7 linked regions of the Homo sapiens genome follow. The protein of the gene in region 4 interacts with the protein of the main gene of each other region in a pairwise test. Each region holds a gene or a part of one and is shown on either strand. Other genes may lie near its edges. The genes, in order: AKAP8L, THAP3, CDR2, PKN1, HSF2BP, CEP57 and GABPB1.

Region 1 (3,500 bases), 930 kb from region 4:
AGGGTTTCATTATGTTGGCCAGGCTGGTCTCAAACTCCTGACCTCAGGCAATCCACCCGCCTCAGCCTCCCCAAAGTGCTGGGATTACAGGCATGAGCCACCATGCCTGGCCCTCAAGTCTTTCTTCTTAAATCTGTATTCTTAGCTATTTCATACATTGTGTGGTTATTTTAAGTAGTTTTTTTTCCATTTAAATTTCTAACTGGTTAATACTAGAATAGAGAAACACTACGACTTTTTGTACGCTATTTTGAATCCCATCCCCTTACCAAATTCTATTAATTCTAAGAACATTTTGCTGGGATCATTCAGCTTTTCTAAGAGCATAATCACATTATTTGCACATAAAGAGAGTTTGCATTATACCAATAATATTGCTAGATTTTTTGTTTTTGTTTTTGAGACGGAGTCTCGCTTTGTCGCCCAGGCTGGAGTGCAGTGGCGCGATATCAGCTCACTGCGAGCTCCGCCTCCCAGGTTCATGCCATTCTCTTTTTTTTTTTTTTTGAGACGGAGTCTCGCTCTGTTGCCCAGGCTGGAGTGCAGTGGCGGGATCTCGGCTCACTGCAAGCTCCGCCTCCCGAGTTCACGCCATTCTCCTGCCTCAGCCTCCCAAGTAGCTGGGACTACAGGCGCCCACCACCACGCCCGGCTAATTTTTTGTGTTTTTAGTAGAGACGGGGTTTCACCGTTTTAGCCGGGATGGTCTCGATCTCCTGACCTCGTGATCCGCCCGCCTCGGCCTCCCAAAGTGCTGGGACTACAGGCGTGAGCCACCGCGCCCGGCCTTTCATGCCATTCTCTTGCCTCAGCCTCCCGAGTAGCTGGGACTACAGGCGCCCGCCACCACGTCTGGCTAATTTTTTGTATTTTTAGTAGAGATGGGGTTTCACCGTGTTAGCCAGGATGGTCTCGATCTCCTGACCTCGTGATCCACCCACCTCGGCCTCCCAAAGTGCTGGGATTACAGGCATGAGCCACCGCGCCCGGCAACTGTTGCTAGATTTCTTAGGGAACCATCCCTCCATTCCAGAAACAAACCTTACTTATAATGTATCATACATAGGGATCACTACTAGATTGATAGTTACTAATATTTTATTTAGCACTTCATTTTATTTATTTTTTTGAGACAGAGTCTTGCTCTGTTGCCCCGGCTGGAATGCAGTGGCACGATCACAGCTCATTGCAGCCTCAACCTCCTGGGCTCAGGTGATCCTCCCACCTCAGCCTCCCAAGTAGCTGGGACCACAGGCCCCAGTACCTGGCTAATTTTTTTATTTTTAATTTTATAGACACAGTGTCTCACTATATTGCCCAGGCTGGTCTTGAACTCCTGGGCTCAAATGATCCTCCCACCTCAGTCTCCCCAAGTGCTGGGATTACAGGTATAAGCCACTATATCCAGCCAACTTTCTTTCTTTTTTTTCTTTTTTTTTTTTTGAGGAGTCTCACTCTGTTGCCCAGGCTGGAGTGCAGTGGCGCGATCTCGGCTCACTGCAACCTCCGCCTCCTGGGTTCACACCATTCTCCTGCCTCAGCCTCTCGAGTAGCTGGGACTACAGGCGCCCGTCACTACGCCCGGCTAATTTTTTGTATTTTTAGTAGAGATGGGGTTTCACCGTGTTAGCCAGGATGGTCTTGATCTCCTGACCTCGTGATCCGCCTGCCTCGGCCTCCCAAAGTGCTGGGATTACAGGCATGAGCCACCGCGCCCGGCCAATCCAGCCCACTTTCATATCTTTAATAATAGTAAACTAATCTACAGTTTCATTTTGGTATCATCTTTATCAGAATTTTGGAATTAAGGTTTAAGAAGCTTCCTAAATATTGAGAGGACAGACTCTAGCATAGCAGTCTGAGGCGTTCCCTGGAACACTCCCTAGTGAAACTGATGAAAAGTATTAAAAAACAACCATTTAAAGTCTCTGAAAATGTTCCTAAGGACATACAGCCCTATGAGAAAGATTTAATGAGGAAAAGCTACTAAAACTCAGTTCCATGAAGAGTTGTGATGTCTGAAACACAACCTATTGCATCCCTGCCTCCCCCAGCTTAGTGTGATGGAAACTCCACTCCAGACAGTACAGCCAAGAAGACAGGTCTGCCCGCATCTACCCAGATCATCTCAGTTAAGGGGTATGATATCTTCCCAGGAGGAACAGAATGTCAGCATCTATTTTTCTGAGTTGGAGTTTCACTCTTGGTTGCCCAGGCTGGAGTGCAATGGCGTGATATCGGCTCACTGCAACCTCTACTTCCCGGGTTCAAACAATTCTCCTGCCTCAGCCTTCCGAGTAGCTGGGATTACAAGTGCCCGCCACCAAGCCCGGCTAATTTTTGTATTTTTAGTAAAGATGGGGTTTCACGATGTTGTCCAGGCTGGTCTTGAACTCCTGACCTCAGGTGATCTGCCCACCTTGGCCTCCCAAAGTGCTGGGATTACAGGCGTGAGCCACTGTACCCAGCCGGATGTCAGTATCTCTCATCCCGCCCCCAGCTACCTGCTGATGAGGCTAAGTTCTAGACAAGCATAGCTGAGAGAGAACGGTTCCTATCTTCTACCCAGCCACACGCACGTGGAATGGAGGCTTGACCCTGGGCATGGCACACTAAGAATATAAGGGCTCACATACCCATGGCTTGTTCATAAAGCAGAGGTCCCATGCCAGGAAAGGCAAACCAAGACCGGAGGCTACAGCCTACTGTACCTCCTCCCATGTCTCTCCTAAAGTGGCAGAGTCACTCAGAGAGAGGTACTCCATTGTCTCCATCCCCAGAGCCTTGGCTCAGAGATTCTGCCCACAGTGAGAGCACGGCCTTAAATCAGTAAACTCCCAATCTCAAAGGAACTGACTGACTTCACTGGCAAGAGTGTTGGGAAGTGCAAGACTAGGGCCTCTCTCAAAAACAATGGAGACTAGGGAGGAAAAAAATTAAAAGGACATTGATAGCTTTTTTTTTTCTTTCTGAATATTTATTGGAGTTAAACACTGATAGCTTTGTCCTTTTTTTTTTCCCCCACCACACAGCCATAAAAAAGAAGGACCGGTAGATTTGACAGTGATATTAGCTAACCCATAGGCTAACTAGGTTACCAAAGAGGACAAGGACCAGTGAAATAGCTAAGAACAGACTCCCTGGGTTCAGAATAAATCTCAAACAACCACCTCAAAAACCATCCCTCTTGGGCCTGGCATAGTGGCTGACGCCTGTAATCCCAGCACCTTGTGAGGCTGAGGTGGGTGGCTCATAAGATCAAGAGTTCGAGACCAGCCTGGCCAACATGGTGAAACCCCGTCTCTACTAACAATACAAAAATTAGCCGGGCGTGGTAGCACATGCCTGTAATCCCAGCTACTCGGGAGGCTGAGGCAGGAGAATTGCTTGAACCTGAGAGGTGGAGGTTGCAGCAAGCCAAGATCGCGCCACTGCATTCCAGCCTGGGCAACAGAGCAAGACTCTTGTCTGGGAGAGGGGGCGGGGAGGGGAGGGGAAAA
Region 2 (3,097 bases), on a different chromosome or scaffold from region 4:
GACTGAGGTGGGAGGATGGCTTGAGCCCGGTAGTTTGAGACCAGCCTGAGTAAAATAGCAAGATGCTATCTCTACAAAAAAAAAAAAGTGGGGGCCCAGGCGCGGTGGCTCACACCTATAATCCCAGCACTTTGTGAGGCAGAGGTGGGTGGATCACCTGAGGTCAGGAGTTCGAGACCAGCCTGGCCAACGTGGTAAAACCCCGTCTCTATTTCAAAACACAAAAATTAGCCGGGCGTGGTAGCGGGCATCTGTAATCCCAGCTACTCGGGAGGCTGAGGCAAGAGAATCACTTGAACCTGGAAGAGGTTGCAGTGCGCCGAGATCATGCCACTGCACTCCAGACTGGGTGACAGAGCGAGACTCAGTCTCAAAAAAAAGAAAAGAAAAAGGGAATCAGGCACGATCCCTACTAGCAACTGAGATTCTTTGATATTGAAAAGAAGGAAGCTGAGAGGCTTGGGCCTTCCCTCCAGAAAAACCGGGAATCCAAACTGGCATATGAGGAAAGGCGACAGCCCTGCGGGCCGGCCTTGCTGGGAAAATCCCACCTCCCTGTCTCAACCCACAGCATAATTTAAACATTCAAGTACCTGGCCCGGTGCACTCACCTTTTCTTTCTGAGAAGAGCTGGCATTTCCTCTCTCACTGGCAGGGTCTGTGTTCTCCCTCACCTGCTACAAGAGACACACACAGAGTGGATGCAGACCCCAAGAACCCTCAGAGCTCGGGGCAGGCCTCGGGCATCATGCTTGTCCCCGCTGCTCGGCCCACTGCATGCCCCAGTCAACGAACAGCTGCTAAATGAAACTGACCTGAAGCTCAGCCCAACTCACACTGCCCGCTTGGTGCGCTTCTCTTTCTCCAAAGATGTCCTCAAATCATGGTCAGAGTGCCCTGAATAGGTCCCTGTAGAGCTAGGGACCCATCTACTTCCTATGTGTCACCCCAGGGCCTGGCACCTGGCCCCATGACCGCCAGCAAGCAGCAGAAGCGCAGCTCACCACTCGAGGTGCCACTGACCCAGAACCTGCAGCCCCTGGGCCACACTGGGGTGGGGCCCACAAAGCAGAGCTGGCAGAGGCCGTACCCAGCTTCTCCCCACCAACCAGGCACTGGAAGCACCGAGGGCTACAGTGACAAACGTCCCCACTCCCAGTGGCTCAAGTGTCATCTTTCCAGGACAAACGTTATCACAAATACGTGAAGGTGATTAAAGTGTTCATCTATGGACACATACCCCGAGCACCTGGGCTGTGCCAGGCAGCGTCCTGGGTGTGGGGCCTGAAGCAGGGAAGGCAGCCCCTGCCCTCATGGAGATTCTGTTCCAGGGGAGAAGACAAAACCAATGAGGGAAACAGGAAGGACAGCAGGGGCCACAGGGGCCAGGAAGACTGAGGGGCAGGAAGGGGTCGGAGGCAAGAGGGGGTTTGAGGGTCCAGAAGGGCTTCCTGAAGGAAGGGACTGCCAACCTGAAGAGGTTCAGGCAGACTGCATGAGGCTATCTGGGAAGGGTGCTGGGGAGGACAGATGGGGCAGGGGCTCCCAGGCGGCCGCTCTGGGCGTGTTTGCTACGTGGCCGCTTTGTTCTTCCCATCGGCTCCACTCTCCACTCACGGATCCCTTTCCTCTCCCCATAAATCCACCAATGCAGGGAGCTGCTGGCCTGTGGCTTGTCCCGCCACTGCCCTGCCTGCCCACTCCACGTGGGTGCCCCTGTGGCCTATCATGCGATCTCAAGGCTTCAGCATCCAACTCTTTGTGAGCCCTCTCCTGAGCCAGGCCCACACATCCCACCTCCACCAAGGCAAGCTTGGCTCACTGCAACCTCTGCCTCCCGGTTCAAGAGATTCTCCTGCTTCAGCCTCCCAAGTAGCTGGGATTACAGGTGCCCACCAACACACCCAGCTGATTTTTGTATTTTTAGTAGAAATGGGGTTTCAACATGTTGGCTGGGCTGGTATCGAATTCCTGACCTCAGGTGATCCACCCACCTCTGCCTCCCAAAGTGCTGGGATTACAGACGTGAGCCACCGCACCCAGCCATAGAATAATTCATTTTTAAAATGCCTTTAATTTATGACTTCTCTTAAAGCCGAGGTCATGGCCAGCAGGGCCACAGGGCTGTGGACCCCAGAGGCGTGACAGTGCTGTTGTCACTGGAGTTCTTGGCCTTGGCTTTTCCCACACATGCCGCCACCCCCACTGCCCCCAGCTGCTGGTAAACAACGCAGGCTGGATGTGACCAGACGGAAGGTGCAGTGCCCTCCTACCTGTGTGGGGTCCTGAAAGGCGAACACCGTGGGCACGGCATTGTGCTTTAGGTTCTTGCGGTTTCCAAAGGCGCTGAAGCACTCTGGCCGGAAGTGCTCGGAGCAGATGACCGTGTGCTGCTTGGGCTTGAAGTTGCCCCGGCCGATGTTCAGCACCCATTCCTTCAGCAGCTCCGGGCGGCTGAACGGAAACCTAAGGGCAGAGGCACGGGGTGTGAGGCCCAGCAAGGCTGGACCCAGCGCCTCAGAGTCATTCGGAATTTTCACATCACTACAGAGTACTTCCCTGGACAGCTGTGGACATTCAGTCCTCTCGGTTTATTAAATCACATCTAATTTCTGGAAGCTTCTGTCACAGCTGTTAAAGCACTCTTAATAGGAAACCCGAGACCACGAGCATGGCCAGAGAGCCCAAGTGAGCTGCTTCCGATGCTACATTTGCCAGGAGCCTACCAGGAGCCGGGCCCTGTTCTTCGTGCTAGGGATGGGGGGTAATGAGACAGTCCTGGCCCCCAAGAGCTGATATTCTGGAGCGGGGGCACAGTGATGAGCCACACAGATGTGGACGGTGTCTTCTGGGGATGACAGCTGCTCCAGAGAACAGACAGAGGGAAGCCCTGGGGTGGTGAGGAGAGGCAGCTGAAGGGGTGATGTTTGAGCACAGACCGCAGGAAGTGGCAGCACAAGCGACGCAGGCTTCAGAAGGGACAGCAGGAACGGCCACTCACGCAGGTCCAGCTGAGACAGCGAGAGGGAGTGGGGACTGCATGACGCAGGGCCCTGAGCAGCTGGGGAGTCCCTGGAGGCTCTAGACAGAGGTGAGA
Region 3 (3,500 bases), on a different chromosome or scaffold from region 4:
TGGGAGGCCAAGGCAGGTGGATCATCTGAGGACAGGAGTTCGAGACCAGCCTGGCTAACACAGTGAAACCCCATCTCTACCAAAAATACAAAAATTAGCCAGGCGTGGTGGCAGGCGCCTGTAATCCCAGCTACTCGGGAGGCGGTTCTCATTCTCAAAAAAGTTTGTGTTAAAAAATAAAATGCTGCATCTAATTGCAAGTGCTTTTTTACCAGTATGTGATTGGCATAACAGCAACACATCGAAGTGTCAAAAGTGTAACTCTCCTGCCAAGTGAATTACCTCAATTTCCTGTAACTGCTCCTGATTGGTTGTATACATCTGCTGAACAGAGTCCTCCAACTCTGTGTTCCGATCCAGTAATGTCTTCCCAAGCTCAGCAGCAAGTTGAAGATCTAGCACAACAAATGAATCTTAGAATAATACAAATGATCTCACATCAACAATTTATATAACCCAGTCCTTCAAAAAAGAACATGTAGTTTAAGTCACATCCCAATGGAAGGTGGAGTGGCACAGAAGGAAACCCGAGTTCTACTTAAAATTCAGTTAAACTGACGCCTCCAGCAGGTAATGTATTCTCTTATGTACCCATACTTGTAAGAAGTGAAAAATGGTCATCTACTTTATGGAGATGCAGTTATTTGTTCAGGAATGATCATTCCGCAGTGTTACTTCTAAAATCCTATTTGCTAGTACAATGAATGTATTCATATCCTGACAGTCTACTTTTTTGAATGGACCCTTGAGCCAAGGTATAGGTGGAGCTTTCAAAAATCTTTAAAGTTCCCATGAATTTGCCTGCTGTGAATACAACTGTTAAAGTTTATTGTCATATATCCTGGACTCCTAAGGGGACTAAAATTTATTAAGTCAAGAAAAGGAAAAATACATCAGCATTAAGAACACTGCCCCAGGTCACTCTACTTCTCTTCGTGTCCTTCTGTAAGATGAGCAACTAGAAAAGCAAAACAGAAATGTGGTTTTTGAGGTAATTACATGTCAGTAGCTCATACTTCCATTTAGCACAGAACCATATTTTATTTTAAACCTCATTTTTCAACTCTCTCTATTCTTAGGTATAATGCCCATAAAACAGGATTTGTTTATATTATACTCAACTCCCAGAAATGAAAATTTAGTTAACAATATAAGAAAGGACACTAGTTGTAACATACGTCATTGAAATACTTCTTTGCATAGTAAATCTTATGGAGCAGTCCTTTGATACAGTGGGAAATGCACTGCACTCTGGGCAGGTAAGTCTCAGGCCCAGTTCTATCATTTACCAGAACACTTTCAATATGGTGACTTTAAGGCCCCTATAGTTAGTATTCTTGTTTAGAGAGATGACTGTCTTATCAATATAAGATTGTGAAAATCAAATGAAATAATACATAAAGGAGTACTTTACAAACTAAGTTGCAATACGCACGCAAAGTACTATTAATAGTCATTGATTCACAAATGAATGTTTTTGTTGCCAGGCACTATGCTAAGCATTAGCTATAGAACAGTGAATAAAATGAAGTCCTGCTTTGCTGACATTCCCAGATTAGTGGAGGAAGCCAGACAAATGAGTAACTAAACTCACATACTGTGATAAACAGTATTCATGCATGCATGCATATACTCAATAATATCAGACACTATTCTAGGCACTGGGATGGTGCCCAGGAGCCATAAGGAACTCACATTAAAAAAATATCCCTGCCCTCATGGAGCTTATATTCTACTGGGAGAAACAGCACAATAAAACTTGATAGCGATAAATGCTAAAGAGAAAAAAATAAAGCAAGGAAGAAGTACAGGAGGAGTGTGGATGTGGGAGGCTGAAATTTAAGAACATGTGACCAGGGCCACATTAGAATCAATGTGTGAAGGAACAGAATAAGTGACCCATGTGTATCCATCAGGGAAACAGCACTCCAGGCAGAGGCAAGGCAAGTGCAAAGCACCTGGGAGGAAGCATGACTGAGTCATTAAGGAGGCTGAGGAGGGTGGAGCAGAATGTATTGGGCAGGGAGGGGAGGGGGAAGACTCAAATCAGAGGGGCTCCAAGATGGCCAGTTTGCGGAGGGCCTAACTAAAGAGGTCAAGAGTTTGGCCTTTACTCCAAATGAAGGAATCCAATGGAGGTTTAACAGGATCACTCCGGCTGCTGTTATACAGGGTGAATGGGACAAAGGTGGGAGCAGAGTGACAGAAAGATACTGCAATCGTCTGGGTGAGAGATGATGGTGGCTTGGACCAGGGTGGCAGAGATGAAGATGGGAGAGGAGGGGCAGAATTCTGACATGTTTTGAAAGTAAAGCTAAAGGATTTGTTGACCAATTCAATATAAAGTCTAAAAGATAAAGCGGGGGAGAAAAACCTGGATTTGGTGATAATGAACAAAGGGCTTTCTTTTTCTGTCTCTTTATTAGGCACGGTCTCGCTCTGTTGCCATGCTGGAGTGCAGTGGTGCACTCATGGCTGACTGTAGCCTTGGATTCCTGGGCTCAAGTGATCTTCCTGCCTCAGCCTGCCAAACAGCTGGGACTACAGGCATGCACTACCAAACCCAGCTTACTTACTTACTGATTTATTGTAGAGACAGGGTCTTACAATGCTGCCCAGGATGATCTCAAACTTCTGGCCTCAACACATCCTCCCACATCAGCCTCCCAAAATGTTGGGATTACAGGCATGAGCCACTGTGCCCAGCCTAGGGCCCAATTTAGAAAGGGAGGTCATAAGGAAGGTCTGACAAGACCTTTTAGCTGAAGCTTGAAGGATGAAGAACTTGCCATGAATTTGGCATATTCTACAACCTGACAAGCAGCCAGTATGATAGAAGCATGAGGGATCAGATCATATAGGATTTTATAGCCCATGGTAGGTAAAGTTTAAATTTTATTCTAGGTATGATGGAAAGTAGCCTCAGTTATTGTCATAAAAGTATTATGAAAAAAATTTATCATAAAAACAAGGAAACTCACTACATAATGATTTTTAAACTTAATTTTTAGAGGTTGACAAATAAGGCTTAATGGCTATCCACCACTACTCATAGTAAAACTTAGCATTGAGTAAATGGTAACAACAGCATTAGTTGTTGTAATGTCCACTCAAGTGCATAATTAGTATTCTACTTGGTTAGTTTTCACTCTGGAAAAAGCAGCAAAACCTACCACACCCAACTCCAGATCATTTAAAAACATTTTACACCCATTTAAAATAAAACAGTATACTGTTGGTAGATAGGTGCTAAAATACATTCTCTTGTGATTTCAAAACTAACAATGTCTATTAGTCATTACATTCATTAAGACTTTAGAGGCCAGGTGCAGTGGGTCATGCCTATAATCCCAGCATTTTGGGAGGGTGAACCAGATGGACTGCTTGAGCTCAGAAGTTCGAGACCAGCCAGGGCAACATGGTGAAATTACATCTCTACCAAAAATACAGTGAGGCCCTGTCTCAAAAATAAAAAAATAAAAAATAAAGACTTCCATTAA
Region 4 (3,500 bases):
TGCCTCAGCCTCCAGAGTAGCTGGGACTACAGGCGTGCACCACCACCAAGCCCGGTTAACTTTTGTATTTTTAGTAGAAATGGGGTTTCACCATGATGGCCAGGCTGGTCTTGAACTTCTGACCTCAGGTGATCCACCTACCTTGACCTCCCAAAGTGGTGGAATTACAGGTGTGAGCCATTGCGCCTGGACTGCTTACTCTGTTTTTACTTGTTTCAGGAACTGCCAATATTCCTTCCTCCCTCCCTCCCTCCCTCTCTCTCTCTTTCTTTCAGACAGAGTCTCGCTCTGTTGCCCAGGCTGGAGTGCAGTGGCTCGATCTAAGCTCACTGCAACTTCTGCCTCCTGGGTTCAAGCGATTCTCCTGCCTCAGCCTTCTGAGTAGCTGGGATTACAGACACACACCACCATGCCCAGCTAATTTTTGTATTTTTAGTAGAGACGGGGTTTTGCCATGATAGCCAGGCTGGTCTCGAACTCCTGACCTCAGGTGATCTGGCCCCCTCAGCCTCCCAAAGTGCTGGGATTACAGGTGTGAGCCACTGCACCCGGCCATGCCAATATATTTTCCATAGGGCTGCACCATTTTACATTCCCACCAACAGTGCACAAAGGTTCTGATTTCTCTCCACATCCTCACCAACACTTATTTTCTGTTTGTTTTGTTGGGTTTTTAAAATAGTATTAGTCATCCTAATGAATATGATATATTGGTTTCTTGTTTGGTTTTCCTTTCTTTTTAAATTTGTTTTATTTATTTATTATTATTATTATTATTTTGAGATGGAGTCTTGCTCTGTTGCACAGGCTGGAGTACGGTGGCACAATCGCGGCTCACTGCAACCTCCGCCTCCTGGGTTCAAGCAATTCTCTGCCTCAGCCTCCCGAGTAGCTGGGATTACAGGCACGCGCCGCCACGCCTGGCTAATTTTTTTGTATTTTTTGTAGAGATGGGGTTTCACCATGCTGGCCAGGCTGGTCTTGAACTCCTGACCTCGTGATCCACCCGCCTCGGCCTCCCCAAGTGCTGGGATTACAGGCGTGAGCCACCACGCCCAGCCTTTTTTTTAATCTAAATAAACTTGAAGTTTTTTTTCTTTTTTTTTAATTTAGAGACAGGGTCTCTCTGTCATCTAGGCTAGAGTGAAATGGCTCAATGATAGCTCACTGGGCTCAAGTGATCCTCCCACCTCTAGAACAGCTAGGACTACAGGTGTGGGCCACCACATCTGGCTAATTTTTACATTTTATTTTTTGTAGAGACAGGGTCTTGCTATGTTGCCCAGGCTGGTCTCAAACTCCTGGCCTCAAGTGATCCTCCTGTCTCAGCCTCCCAAAGTGCTGGGATTACAGGCATGAGCTGCTGCACCTGGCCTGTTTTTTTGTTTTTGTTGTTGTTTTCGTTCTCTTTTGAGGCAAAGTCTCACTCTGTCACCCAGGCTGGAGGGCAATGGCGTGATCATGGCTCACTGCAATTTCCACCTCCCGGGTTCAAGTAATTCTCCTGCCTAAGCCTCCCAAACAGCTGGGATTACAGGTGTGCACCACCATGCCCAGCTAAGTTGTATTTTTAAGTAGAGACAGTGTTTCACCATGTTGGCCAGGCTGGTCTCAAATTCCTGACCTCAAGTGATCCGTCCACCTTGGCTTCCCAAAGTGCTGGGATTACATGTGTGAGCCACCACACCCGACCCCTGGCTTATTTTTTAAAGGTTTACAAATATGGGGCATTCCAGGTCCCCAATGCCACCTCGTTTCTCAGGGCCCACGATGCCCACTCACTGGTGTTCTCGGCTTCTGCTTTGAGGCTGCTCCGGCCACTGAGGCTTCCGCTTCGGCTGTAAAGGCCCCGGGCTGGGCGGCTCAGGAAGGGGGGGCGGCTGTCTGGGGTCCCAGGTCCCCCCATTGAGGGGGTAGGGTTCCACGGGATGGTCTCTGGGAGGTCTCTGCAGCCCACCACTCGTACCTCCAGGGTCCCTGCAGGAGGGGAAAGCTCAGCAGGGGGCCACTTCTGGGGCAGGCTGAGCGGAGGGGACCACAGCGGGGAGGGGACACATCCAGACGCAGCCATGGTACAAGTGGGAGCCAGTGAGGGACAACCAGAATGGAGCATGGGGCATGAGGCCGGGATGTCCGTGCTGGGATAGGAGAATATGAGAGAAGCAGTCCTTCCAGGAGGGGCTCAGATGCGGGAGTTTAGGGGCAGAAGAGAGGCTCAGGGTACAGGCCGTAGGCTCAGGGTACAGGCCGTAGGCCCAGGCAAGCAGGAACAGGGTAGGACTAGGGGTTCTAGGGGAGGACTCGGTGGACAATCTGAGGTCTAAGATGGGCTAGGGGTCTACGGTGGGGCTGGTCTGGAGGGGTAGATGGCTGAGGGGTCTGTGGAAGGTGGGGCTGGCTGGTCTGCAGCAGGCGGGTAGGAGGCTCATGGCTGAGCGTTGTGAGGCCGAGGTGGGGCTGGGGAACAAGGGCTGGGAGAAAAATACTGGGCCAGGTGAAGAGAGATGGAGAAACTGAGGTGTGGGGGGGGTGGGCAAGAGCCCAGAATCAGAGGGCAAAGGAGGGGAGGAGACAGTGGTGGAATGGGAGTCCAGGGTTGGGGAGAGCGGAGATTGAAGTCGGGGGTCACAGGAATGGGGAAATGAGAGGAGTCGGAGGCCCAGGGCTGCAGGGGTGGGGTAGGGTCTCAGACCCACCTGTGAGCGGCGCGGGCTTGCACAGGGTGCTGTAGTGCGTGGCGGGAAAGGGCCCGGCCAGGCGGGTGCTGAAGGCAGCGGAGGAGGCCGCAGCGAGCTCTTCTCGCAGCAGCCGCCCCTTGGGGTGGTCGGCGGGCAGCTCCCCAAGTCTCCGCTCCAGAGCCTCCCGCAGCAGCCCCAGCTTCTGGTTGGATTCTGTTAATTTCTCCTGGGCCTGTGGTGGGAAGTGTGGGGGCTGGGGGCGGGACCAGGCTTGCCCCTTCCCAAGTGCAGGCCTAGGCCCCACCCCCAGGCTGAGTCTCACACTGAGCTCCTCCCTAGAGGGCTAAACCTCAAACCAACTTGGTCCCACCTCTGGGAAAACCAGGCCCCGCCCCTTGGAGAGGCCCCTCCCCTCACCGAGGGCCATTCCTGCCTGAAACCATGCCCCCTCGCTGAGGCCCCGCCCCTCACAGTTGCACTGTTCCTGCCTGATGCCCTGCCCCTCACAGTAGTCTACCCTGGCTGAGGCCCCACCCCTTATGAAGGTCCCACCCCCTTTGAGGCTCCACCCCTCACCGTGGGTGTTCCTGGTGAACTCCCCGCCGCTTGCTGAAGCACCGCCCCTTGCTGAAGCCCCGCCTCTAATGAAAGCTCCGCCCCTCACCTCGCTGACTGCCTTGCGGTCCGGGGCCTTGGCAGCGCTGAGCAGGCGCAGTACGTTCTTGGCACCCTCGGCCACCGCGTGCTCCACTCGGAAGTGGTGCCGCAGCTCTTCGATGCGCAGCTCCACAGCCCCCAGGTCAGGACTCCCTGTGAGCGTGG
Region 5 (3,500 bases), on a different chromosome or scaffold from region 4:
GATCCACAAGCAATTTGTAAAATTATACCCCCAAACAAAACCATCTATGCCAGCCTGGGCAACATGGAGAGACCCCGTCTCTACAAAAAAATTTTTAAAATTTAACAATTAGCCAGGCATGGTGGCATGCACTGACGGTCCCAGCTGCTCAGAAGGCTGAGCTGGGAGGATAACTTAAGCCTAAGAGGTCGAGGCTGCAGTGAGCCATGTTCATACCACTGTGCTCCAGCCTGGGTTACAAAGCAAGACTCTGTCTCAAAAAAAAAATTTTTTTTGCATATATGTTACACTGTATTATATGTATTATGTATGTATAGATATTTGTTAGCACAAAATATTAAAATGGACTAGAAAGCTTGGTTCTGGATAAGATGGCCTGAACACACCCTCCAGTCTCGCTTCCACTGAATGCAGCTATAAATTCCAAAGAGAATACATGAAGCAGCTATTTGAGGACTCTGAAAAGTAAACAGTAGCAGGCAGATAGGGGAAGAAGATCAAAATTTTAAGAACCACTAAACCAGCAGAGAGTTTACCACTTTTTCCTTTAGTGTCCCTGGCCTGGACTCGAGGGAGCTCCAAAACCCAAAAGTAGCCCTGAGCCACACAGAGAGCACCAGGAGAAGGTCTCTAGTGAGGCTCAAGGAGTGGGAAAGGGGTCTCCTGCCAGCAACCAAGCACGGTAGCAGTGGGGACATCCCCCAGGTAACTCAAACTCTGGGGGAAAGGAATTTTTTCCTTACACCTGAAAGCTCTAAGAGCTTCTCAACTCCTGCCGCAGGGCGGGATGAGGGCAGAGTTGCAGGCACTTGGACACAGCAGGGTATATGAAGCCCCAGCATTCCAGGTGGGGGACTGAAAAAGGCAGTCCCAGGTAACTAAAGTGTACCCAGAGAGTTAACAGCTCAGAAAAGTGACCCCAAAAAGTTGTTTATAAATTCCTGGCCTCATCCCAAGTTGTGCCTGTGTGGATCTGATCATAAACAGTATCTGAAAGACTCTGAACCTAAGATCCAGACCACCCAGGTCTCAGACTGGCCACTGGGCGGCACTCACGAGGGGCAGTTCCAATAGCACTGTAAAGACTCTGAAAACAGGACGACACACTGAAACCAAACAGAGAAAAGGCTGGCTGGAATCTGACCCAAAGGGGTTGACTGCCTGTGAAAATATAAACACCAGCATTTCCCAAGGATTTAAACAAGACCAGTGATCACGTAAATGTCCAGGATAAATCCAAAATTACTTGGCATATGAAGAAACAGGAAAATCTCAACTCTCATGGGAAAAAACAATCAAGAGACACCGAGGCCAGGATGACACAGGTGTTGGAAGCACCTGGCACAGACTTTACAGAAGCTCTTACTTTTTAAAAGTGCTAGGCCGGGCGCAGGGGCTCACGCCTGTAATCCCAGCACTTTGGGAGGCCAAGGCGGGTGGATCACGAGGTCAGGAGATTGAGACCATCCTGGCTAACACGGTGAAACCCCGTCTCTACTAAAAATACAAAAAATTAGCTGGGCGTGGTGGCGGGCGCCTGTAGTCCCAGCTACTTGGAAGGCTGAGGCAGGAGAATGGTGTGAACCCGGGAGGCGGAGCTTGCAGTGAGCCGAGATCACGCCACTGCACTCCAGCCCGGGTGACAGAGCAAGACTCCGTCTCAAAAAAAAAAAAAAAAAAAAAAGTGCTCCACAGCAGGGGATGGTGGCACATGCCTGTAGTCCCAGCTACTCAGGAGGCTGAGGTGGAAGGATTATTTGAACGCCTAGGAGTTTGAGGCCAGCCTAGGCAAGGTCTGTAGAGACTCGGTCTCTTTAAAAAAATAATTAAAAAATAAAGATGCTCTAAGAAGTCAAAGGCAACACTCAGAACGAACAGTGTGAGTGGCAGAATCCTACACTGCCCCTCTCCCCAAGATTTCCTGCCCTAATCTCTGGGACTATAAATTATCACACGCTGATTATGTCATTGCCTGGAAAAGAGGATTCTGTAGATGTAATTAAGGTTACTAACCAGCTGACTCAAGAGTTAATCAAAAGGAGTTTATCCAGGTATGCCTCATCTAAACACACAAATCTATAAGAAGCAGAGTTTTTGCCTTCTTGAAGTAAACTTTTTAACAAAAGAATAAAAGCAGAGAGAGTTTCATCTTGCTGGTAGCAGAAGAGGAAGTCTCAGAGACTGGAAACGTGGGAAGGATTCAATGAGCGACTGTGGCTTGAAGATGGGGTCCCTGTGAGAAGCAATGCAAGCTGCCTCAGCAGCTGACCCACAGCTGACCAGCCAGCTGGGAAACAGGGAACTCGCTCCTAGAAACCAAGACACTGGACTCTACCAGCCACTTCAAAGTGCCCAGAAGCAGATTCCTCCCCTAGATTCTCTGAAAAGATCCCACCCTGGAAAACACCTCACTTTTGACCTATGCAGAGAACCTCTCAAACCCACTCAGACTTCTGACTTGCCAAACTATGAAATAATAAATGGTGTTGTTTTAGCCACCAAGTTGGTGATAATTTGTTACATAAAAATAGAAAACAAATACAGATTTTAGTAGCTGGAAGACAGATACCTATTTAAATTCATTTTGACATACCCATGAAGTACCATGTGATAATACTGGGACTCACTGATTGCTCTAAGGTGAGAACATTCCTTCCTTAAATTTATTTTCTAAAATGCTATTTAAGAGACAGTGCACGCCCTTAACTTCTCCAGGAATTTATTTCTTCTAGTTTTTAAAACTACCACCAAAATTAACTGTGTTTACTTGAAGAGAGGCCCAATCAGCACAGTCTAATTAATATGTAAATAGAATTAACTTTTTAACATTATCCACCATACACTTTGAGTTTGGTACACTGTCCTGGCTTCAAGTCTCCCAGAAGCTGCAATATGGTGTCCAAGAGCACCCGGCTTGAATTAACCAAGAATTCACGACCACATGCTATAGCAGCAACATCTGCAACAGAAAATGAAACAAAACATCAAGATCATTATGACTCAGAACCTAGACAATTTTGTGCAGAACAGAGTATTTTCTCCTAAAAGACCTAATGAAAACACAGCTGAAAATGAGGCATTTATAAATGAAATTGCTAGGCATGGTTGTTCACACCTGTAATCCCAACATTTTGAGAGACTGAGGTGGGAGGACTGCTTGAGGCCACAAGTTCAAGACCAGCCTGGGCAACACAGCAAGACCCTATCTCTACAAAAAATTTAAAAATTAGCCGGGCACGGTGTGTGCACCTGTAGTCCTAGCTATTCAGGAGGTAGAGGCAGAAGGATTGCTTGAGCCTAGGAGGTAGAGGCTGCAGTGAGCCATGATCATGACACTGCACTCCAGCCTGGGTGACAGAGCAAAGCCCTGTCTCAAAAAAAAAAAAAAAAAATTATCAACAAAAATGACAGCTCAGAAAGAATCACTGACAACCACAAGAGTTACTGAAATATCAAGTAATGTGCAGTGTGATTAGCAAGCGCCGAAAGAGTGAAACAGA
Region 6 (2,348 bases), on a different chromosome or scaffold from region 4:
ATATGATACTAAAGTCTTACGGGACCACTGTTGTATATGTGGTCTGTTGTTTACTACATCATCATCTGGCACCTGACATCACATTCATTTTAGCTAAACTTAACTGATAAGACATGAGTGTTTGAAGAGCAAGATTCATCTGTAGACTTTACATATACAATACTCTTTTGGGGAAAATAAGAATATAAAGAATTAACCTTGAAATTAAGAACTCTTGCATTTCCCTCTAGTGCCTTTCTTGAACTTTTAAATTCATATTTTTAATTAAAAATTTCTTGATCTAGGCTAGGCATGGTGGCTCACACCTGTAATCCCAGCACTTTGGGAGGCTGAAGTGGGCATATCACATCCTGGCTAACAGGGTGAAAACCTGTCTGTACTAAAAATACAAAAAATTGGCCAGGCATGGTGGCAGGCGCCTGTAGTCCCAGCTACTCGGGAGGCTGAGGCAGGAGAATGGCGTGAACCCGGGAGGCAGAGCTTGCTGTGAGCCGAGATCATGTCACTGCACTCCAGCCTGGGCGACAGAGCAAGACTCCGTCTCAAAAAAAAAAAAAAAATTTATTGCTCTGTTCAAAAAATGGAGTCATTTTTTAAACACATGGAGCAGTAACCCATAATGAGGTATAATAGACCTAACCATGAAACACAGAAAACTTAACCATGTTCTACTTCTGCTTTGTATATAGTGATCACCAGCAGCTTGCAAAACTTATCCAGGAGTCGCCAACCGTTGAACTGAAAGACAAGTTGGAGTGTGAATTGGAGGCATTAGTGGGAAGGATGGAAGCAAAAGCCAACCAAATAACTAAAGTTCGAAAATACCAAGCCCAGGTAACTCAGTTTTCCTTCACTCAAGTTTCTAATGATTAAGAAAAAAAAAACACTTTAATTCAAATATTAAATGATGACACTAAGTGTATCATAGATAAATATCTACAGGAGATACTTCTTTACTGAAGACATTTGTTCATTGAGAATTGGTAAGTGGATTAAGAAAGAAGACACTTTTAGTCACTTAGCATATTCATCTAAGAAACATCTTTCAAATACTGAATATATTTAATATTCTTTATGAATAAGCTTTAACTTCTTTGATGAATTTAAATTGGAGTTTATCCAAGTAAGTTTTTTTAAAAGCACCTGCGAAATTCTGTTTCCAAAGGAATAAGTCATACATTAAATATGTGAAATATATTTATGTTGCTAATCATTTTATATCAGCCAACAATGTAGTACTACCAGATGCAGTGGTGACATCACACTCAAGGGTTTTCAACCAGAGAGAAACATGATTCATATATTTAAGAGATTACTGTAGTGACTAGGGGTAGGGTAATGGGATCAAGGCAGAGAGGCTGAGAGATCAGCTATAGATGTATCAGAGGTGGTCAGCAAGACAGTAGTTGGGTTTGGGCAGAGGTAAACAGATTTGAGGTATGTTTTGGAAGTAAAAAAAATATTGGGGTTACTTGCTGCTGGGTATCATGTAGAAGGAGAGGGAGTTAGGATGGTGATTCCACTGACTAAAATGGAGAAAGCTGAGAAGTTCAGAGAGCAGAACAGTTTTGTTGACTGTTGATTGGTAGCCATATGATAGACACACAGTGCCAAGTGCTCTGAGTATATCTTCTCATTTAATTTTCACAAAAGGCTTCTGAGGTGGGTATATTCTCATATTATAGATGAGGTAGATGCTAAGCCACATTTTCTGGGAAGTATGCATATATCCTCAGTGAAATTAAATAACTTGCCCAAGTACCAGCTTACTGGGAAATGGCAGAGCTGGGATGAAACTAGCCTTTTCAACTCTAAAACTTTGGCTGTTTTTTCAAAGTTCATGTATGAAAAAGAAATACAAGCAAATTATTCCTGTAGGAGTAAGGAGTAATGGTCTAATTTGTTGCTTATACTAATTAGACTTATTCTATTGGAACACCAACATGCCAGCATCAGTTTGGCTAAAGTAAAAATAAAGCTCCCGTATTTAAAATTATTCTAAAAATAATGGAACAAAAATAAAATTCTTTTCATAGTATTAATACATTACCAATTACATCTGTTCATCCATCTGGAAATTGCTTCTTTGCCTCCTCAGACTAGTTTCTAGAATATCTTTCTCCTCTTCTCCCATTTGTGAAAATCCTTCCCATTCTTCTTTTCTCTGTGTCTGATTTTTTGCCTCCTTCATGAGTCTTTCCTTCAACTCCCCTTGTTTCTCACTCGCCCTGTTCTGTACTTTGGCAATATTGCCTTAATTTAGGACAACCAGAATTTGTTTACTCATGTCTACTTGTTTGTGTATTGTTTTATATATATATAAGCATATATTTATTTATATTAATATT
Region 7 (3,500 bases), on a different chromosome or scaffold from region 4:
CTGTGCTTTAAAGCAAGAACAAATAATGTAGTCAATTATTTATATGTATATGTTAAATAGATGTTCCAGGCCAGGTGCAGTGGCTCACGCCTGTAATCCCAGCACTTTGGGAGGCCGAGGCGGTTGGATCAGCTGAGCTCAGGGGTTTGAAACTAGCCTGGGCAATATGGCAAAACCCCATCTCTACAATACAAAAAATTAAGGGCCGGACATGGTGGCTCACACCTGTAATCCCAGCACTTTGGGAGCCCAAGGCAGGCGGATCACAAGGTCAGGAGTTCGAGACCAGTCAAGCCAATATGGTGAAACCCCATCTCTACTAAAAATACAAAAATTAGCTGGGCATGGTGGTGGGCGCCTGTAGTCCCAGCTACTCGGGAGGCTGAGGCAGGAGAATCACTTGAACCCAGGAGGTGGAGGTTGCAGTGAGCTGAGATCGTGCCACTGCACTGCAGCCTGGGTGACAGAGATTCTGTCTCAAAAAAAAAAAAAAAACAAAAAGAAAAAATGCTGTAGTCCCTCATCATAAGATAGACCAAGGTCCAAGAAATCAATTAGCTGATTTAACTAAGAATATACCTAAATGAAGTTTTGTCCCTCATGAAATGAAAGCTATAAGACAATTTTCATTTAATGGGCTTATACACACAAAAAATGAAATACTATAGATAAAATACTAAGTAGGCATTTAACAAAAACTAGTTCCCTCTCCTTCTTATAAAACCGTAAAGTATTTTAAAAGCAAAGTGCAAAAAGAGAACACATACCTTAAGTAAAACCTCTACTATGCTGGCATGGCCCTCAGAAGCTGCCATATGTAATGGTGTTCGGTCCACTTTGGTTCTGGCATCTCTGCTCACACCAGCTCGCAGCAGTACCTCTGTGGTGGAATAATGACCATACTGTGCTGCTAGATGAAGTGGAGAAGTTCCCAGCTGTACCACAGAAAAAAAAAAAAATCCACATTTACATTATTGTTACTACACTTCTGTTTATATAGTAAACAGATTTTCTTTACATTATCTGTTTACATAGCAACTCAAAACTCAAAAGAAATGCCTAGATTCATGCTTATCACATCCTCTTCATAGACATCTTGAAGAATTCCCAAACACTCTCAATGAAGAAGAAAATCCAGTATTTCCTTTAATTCAAACTTTCTTTCTTCATTATTTTTTATCAGATAAACTGCCTGAACAAAATTAATTTCATTAGAAATTAAGATATAGAGGCCGAACGTGGTGGCTCACGCCTGTAATCCCAGCACTTTGGGAAGCCAAGGCGGGTGGATCACTTGAGGTCAGGAATTCAAGACCACCCTGGCCAACATGGTGAAACCCCATCTCTACTAAAAATACAGAAATTAGCCAGGCGTGGTGGCATGTGCCTGTAATCCCAGCTACTCAGGAGGCTAAGGCAGGAGAATCGCTTGAACCCAGGAGGCAGAGGTTGCAGTGAGCCGAGATCGCGCCACTGCACTCCAGCCTGGGTGACACAGCGAGATTTTGGTCTAAAGAAAAAAAAAAAAAAAAGAAATCAGAGATAGAGTTTGAGAAATTTTTCTGTGTATTAGAATGTATTCCTCATACCAATCACACAAAACTTGCTAAGTTAACTTCGTCTGTAAAATTCATCTCAAATAAATGTAACAGTGTACATTTTTACTTTAAGTGGATCAAAATTGTTTTGTAGGTCTTAAAAAATTCACGTATTGAAACATCTCAGTGATCTTTTTAAAGGGATTTTTTTCAAAGGAAAAATCTTAGGTGCATTTGCCAAAGTTGAATCAGGACAAAACCAAAACAGAGCCCAATTCTCCTGAAATTGGTTCCATGTGGTCTAGTCATTAAATTGACATCCACAATACACAGAGGGAGTACTAAAATGTGAGGGAAGGAAGATTAAGTTCTATCACATGCATTTAAAGGCACAGAAAATCCCTATAACCCTCTGATTACCACATCACTTGATATTCCAAAGAACTAAGATATTTGGACTAAGGAAATTTACACATATAAACAGTTTATTATGTTATGAAGAGATTAAGTGAGATATATGTATAAAGGTCCTTAGTCCTATCTCTCTATCTATCTATCTATAGATAGAGAGATAGATATATTTTTTGTTTGTTTGTTTGTTTAATTGTTGTTTGTTTAATTAGAGACAGGGCCTCACTGTGTTGCCCAGGCTGGGGTGCAATGGATATTCATAGGTACAATTATCACACACTACAGCTTTGAACTGCTGGGCTCAAGCAATCTGTCCACCTCAGCCTCCAGAGTAGCTGGGACTACAGGCACACACCAACAAACCCAGCTAAACCTTACATTTTTAAGAGAAGGTCATCCCAGCAGATCAAAGAAGATCCTTAAACAATCCTTTCTTTCTCCATGCTTTGTCAATTTTTCTTTAACTAGCCTTTTCTATACTCTTAAATTTCAGTATTTAATGAAAATATCTCAACAGCCCATTTAGCAACCAGGAGCTTTGCTCAGTTTGACATTAGGATCTACTTTTTTATTTTTGTCTTCTGAGACTTTCCCTTCTTGGTTATTGACACAAAATATATATACATATATGCAGGGTTTTTTGTTTTTTTCTGAGACAGGGTCTCACTCTGTCACTCAGGCTGGAGTCCAATGGGGTGATCACAGCTCACTGTACCTTCAAACTTCTGAGCTCAAGCGATCCTCCTCCCTCAGCCTCCCGAAGTGCTGGGATTATGGATATGAGCCACCACACCTGGCCATGTAGTTTTTGTAGCTTTTTGGGTTTTTTTTTATTCATTTTTTTAGAGTCAGCTTCTTGCTCTGTCGCCCAGGCTAGAATGCAGTGGAGCTATCGTAGCTCACTGTAACCTCTAACTCCTAGGCTCAAGCAATCCTCCCATCTCAGCCTCCAGAGTAGCTAGGACTACAGGCTGAGCCACCATGCCTGACTAATTTTTTTCTTTTTGTTTGAGATGGGGTCTATGTTGCCCATGCTGGTCTTGAACTTCTGGCCTCAAATAATCTGCCACCTCAGTCTCCCAAAGTGCTGGGATTACAAGCGTAAGCCACTGTGCTCAGCCAATATATGTAGTTTAAGGCAAACACCTGTGAATCAACACCATAGTCTAGAAATAAAACACTGCCAGTAATTTAAAATCTGGCCAGGCGCAGTGGCTCACGCCTGTAATCCCAACACTTTGGGTGGCCAAGGCAGGTGGATTGCCTGAGGTCAGGAGTTCGAGACCAGCCTGGCCAACATGGTGAAACCTCATCTACTAAAAATAAAAAATTAGCTGGGTGTGAGGGTGGGCGCCTGTTATCCCAGCTACTTCGGTGCCTGAGGCAGGAGAATCACTTGAACCCGGGAGGCAGAGGCTTCAGTGAGCCAAGATCATGCCACTGCACTCCAGCCTGGGCAACAGAGCGAAACTCTGTCTCAAAAAAAAAAAAAAAAAAATCTTCCCACATGCCACTCCCTGATCACAAGCCCCTCCCCCAGCCCCAGAGGTA

What was found.
Region 1: the proteins of PKN1 (region 4) and AKAP8L interact in binary tests that used the Homo sapiens proteins (3 or more experiments, as listed by UniProt).
Region 2: the proteins of PKN1 (region 4) and THAP3 interact in binary tests that used the Homo sapiens proteins (3 or more experiments, as listed by UniProt).
Region 3: the proteins of PKN1 (region 4) and CDR2 interact in binary tests that used the Homo sapiens proteins (3 or more experiments, as listed by UniProt).
Region 5: the proteins of PKN1 (region 4) and HSF2BP interact in binary tests that used the Homo sapiens proteins (3 or more experiments, as listed by UniProt).
Region 6: the proteins of PKN1 (region 4) and CEP57 interact in binary tests that used the Homo sapiens proteins (3 or more experiments, as listed by UniProt).
Region 7: the proteins of PKN1 (region 4) and GABPB1 interact in binary tests that used the Homo sapiens proteins (3 or more experiments, as listed by UniProt).

What each region holds. Positions count from the first base shown.
Region 1 is NC_000019.10:15,384,489-15,387,988, forward strand, and holds part of AKAP8L (A-kinase anchor protein 8-like), read right to left. Parts: intron 1-3,500. UniProt on the Homo sapiens protein: Could play a role in constitutive transport element (CTE)-mediated gene expression by association with DHX9. Increases CTE-dependent nuclear unspliced mRNA export.
Region 2 is NC_000001.11:6,627,868-6,630,964, reverse strand, and holds part of THAP3 (THAP domain-containing protein 3), read right to left. Parts: intron 2,467-3,097; coding exon 2,274-2,466; intron 1,323-2,273; coding exon of another isoform or gene 1,241-1,322; intron 678-1,240; coding exon 612-677; intron 1-611. UniProt on the Homo sapiens protein: Component of a THAP1/THAP3-HCFC1-OGT complex that is required for the regulation of the transcriptional activity of RRM1.
Region 3 is NC_000016.10:22,364,620-22,368,119, forward strand, and holds part of CDR2 (cerebellar degeneration-related protein 2), read right to left. Parts: intron 396-3,500; coding exon 283-395; intron 1-282.
Region 4 is NC_000019.10:14,450,306-14,453,805, reverse strand, and holds part of PKN1 (serine/threonine-protein kinase N1), read right to left. Parts: intron 3,489-3,500; coding exon 3,343-3,488; intron 2,911-3,342; coding exon 2,697-2,910; intron 1,978-2,696; coding exon 1,783-1,977; intron 1-1,782. UniProt on the Homo sapiens protein: PKC-related serine/threonine-protein kinase involved in various processes such as regulation of the intermediate filaments of the actin cytoskeleton, cell migration, tumor cell invasion and transcription regulation.
Region 5 is NC_000021.9:43,610,989-43,614,488, forward strand, and holds part of HSF2BP (heat shock factor 2-binding protein), read right to left. Parts: intron 2,960-3,500; coding exon 2,842-2,959; intron 1-2,841. UniProt on the Homo sapiens protein: Meiotic recombination factor component of recombination bridges involved in meiotic double-strand break repair.
Region 6 is NC_000011.10:95,828,498-95,830,845, forward strand, and holds part of CEP57 (centrosomal protein of 57 kDa), read left to right. Parts: intron 1-689; coding exon 690-834; intron 835-2,348. UniProt on the Homo sapiens protein: Centrosomal protein which may be required for microtubule attachment to centrosomes. May act by forming ring-like structures around microtubules. Mediates nuclear translocation and mitogenic activity of the internalized growth factor FGF2, but that of FGF1.
Region 7 is NC_000015.10:50,303,199-50,306,698, forward strand, and holds part of GABPB1 (GA-binding protein subunit beta-1 isoform beta 2), read right to left. Parts: intron 936-3,500; coding exon 768-935; intron 1-767.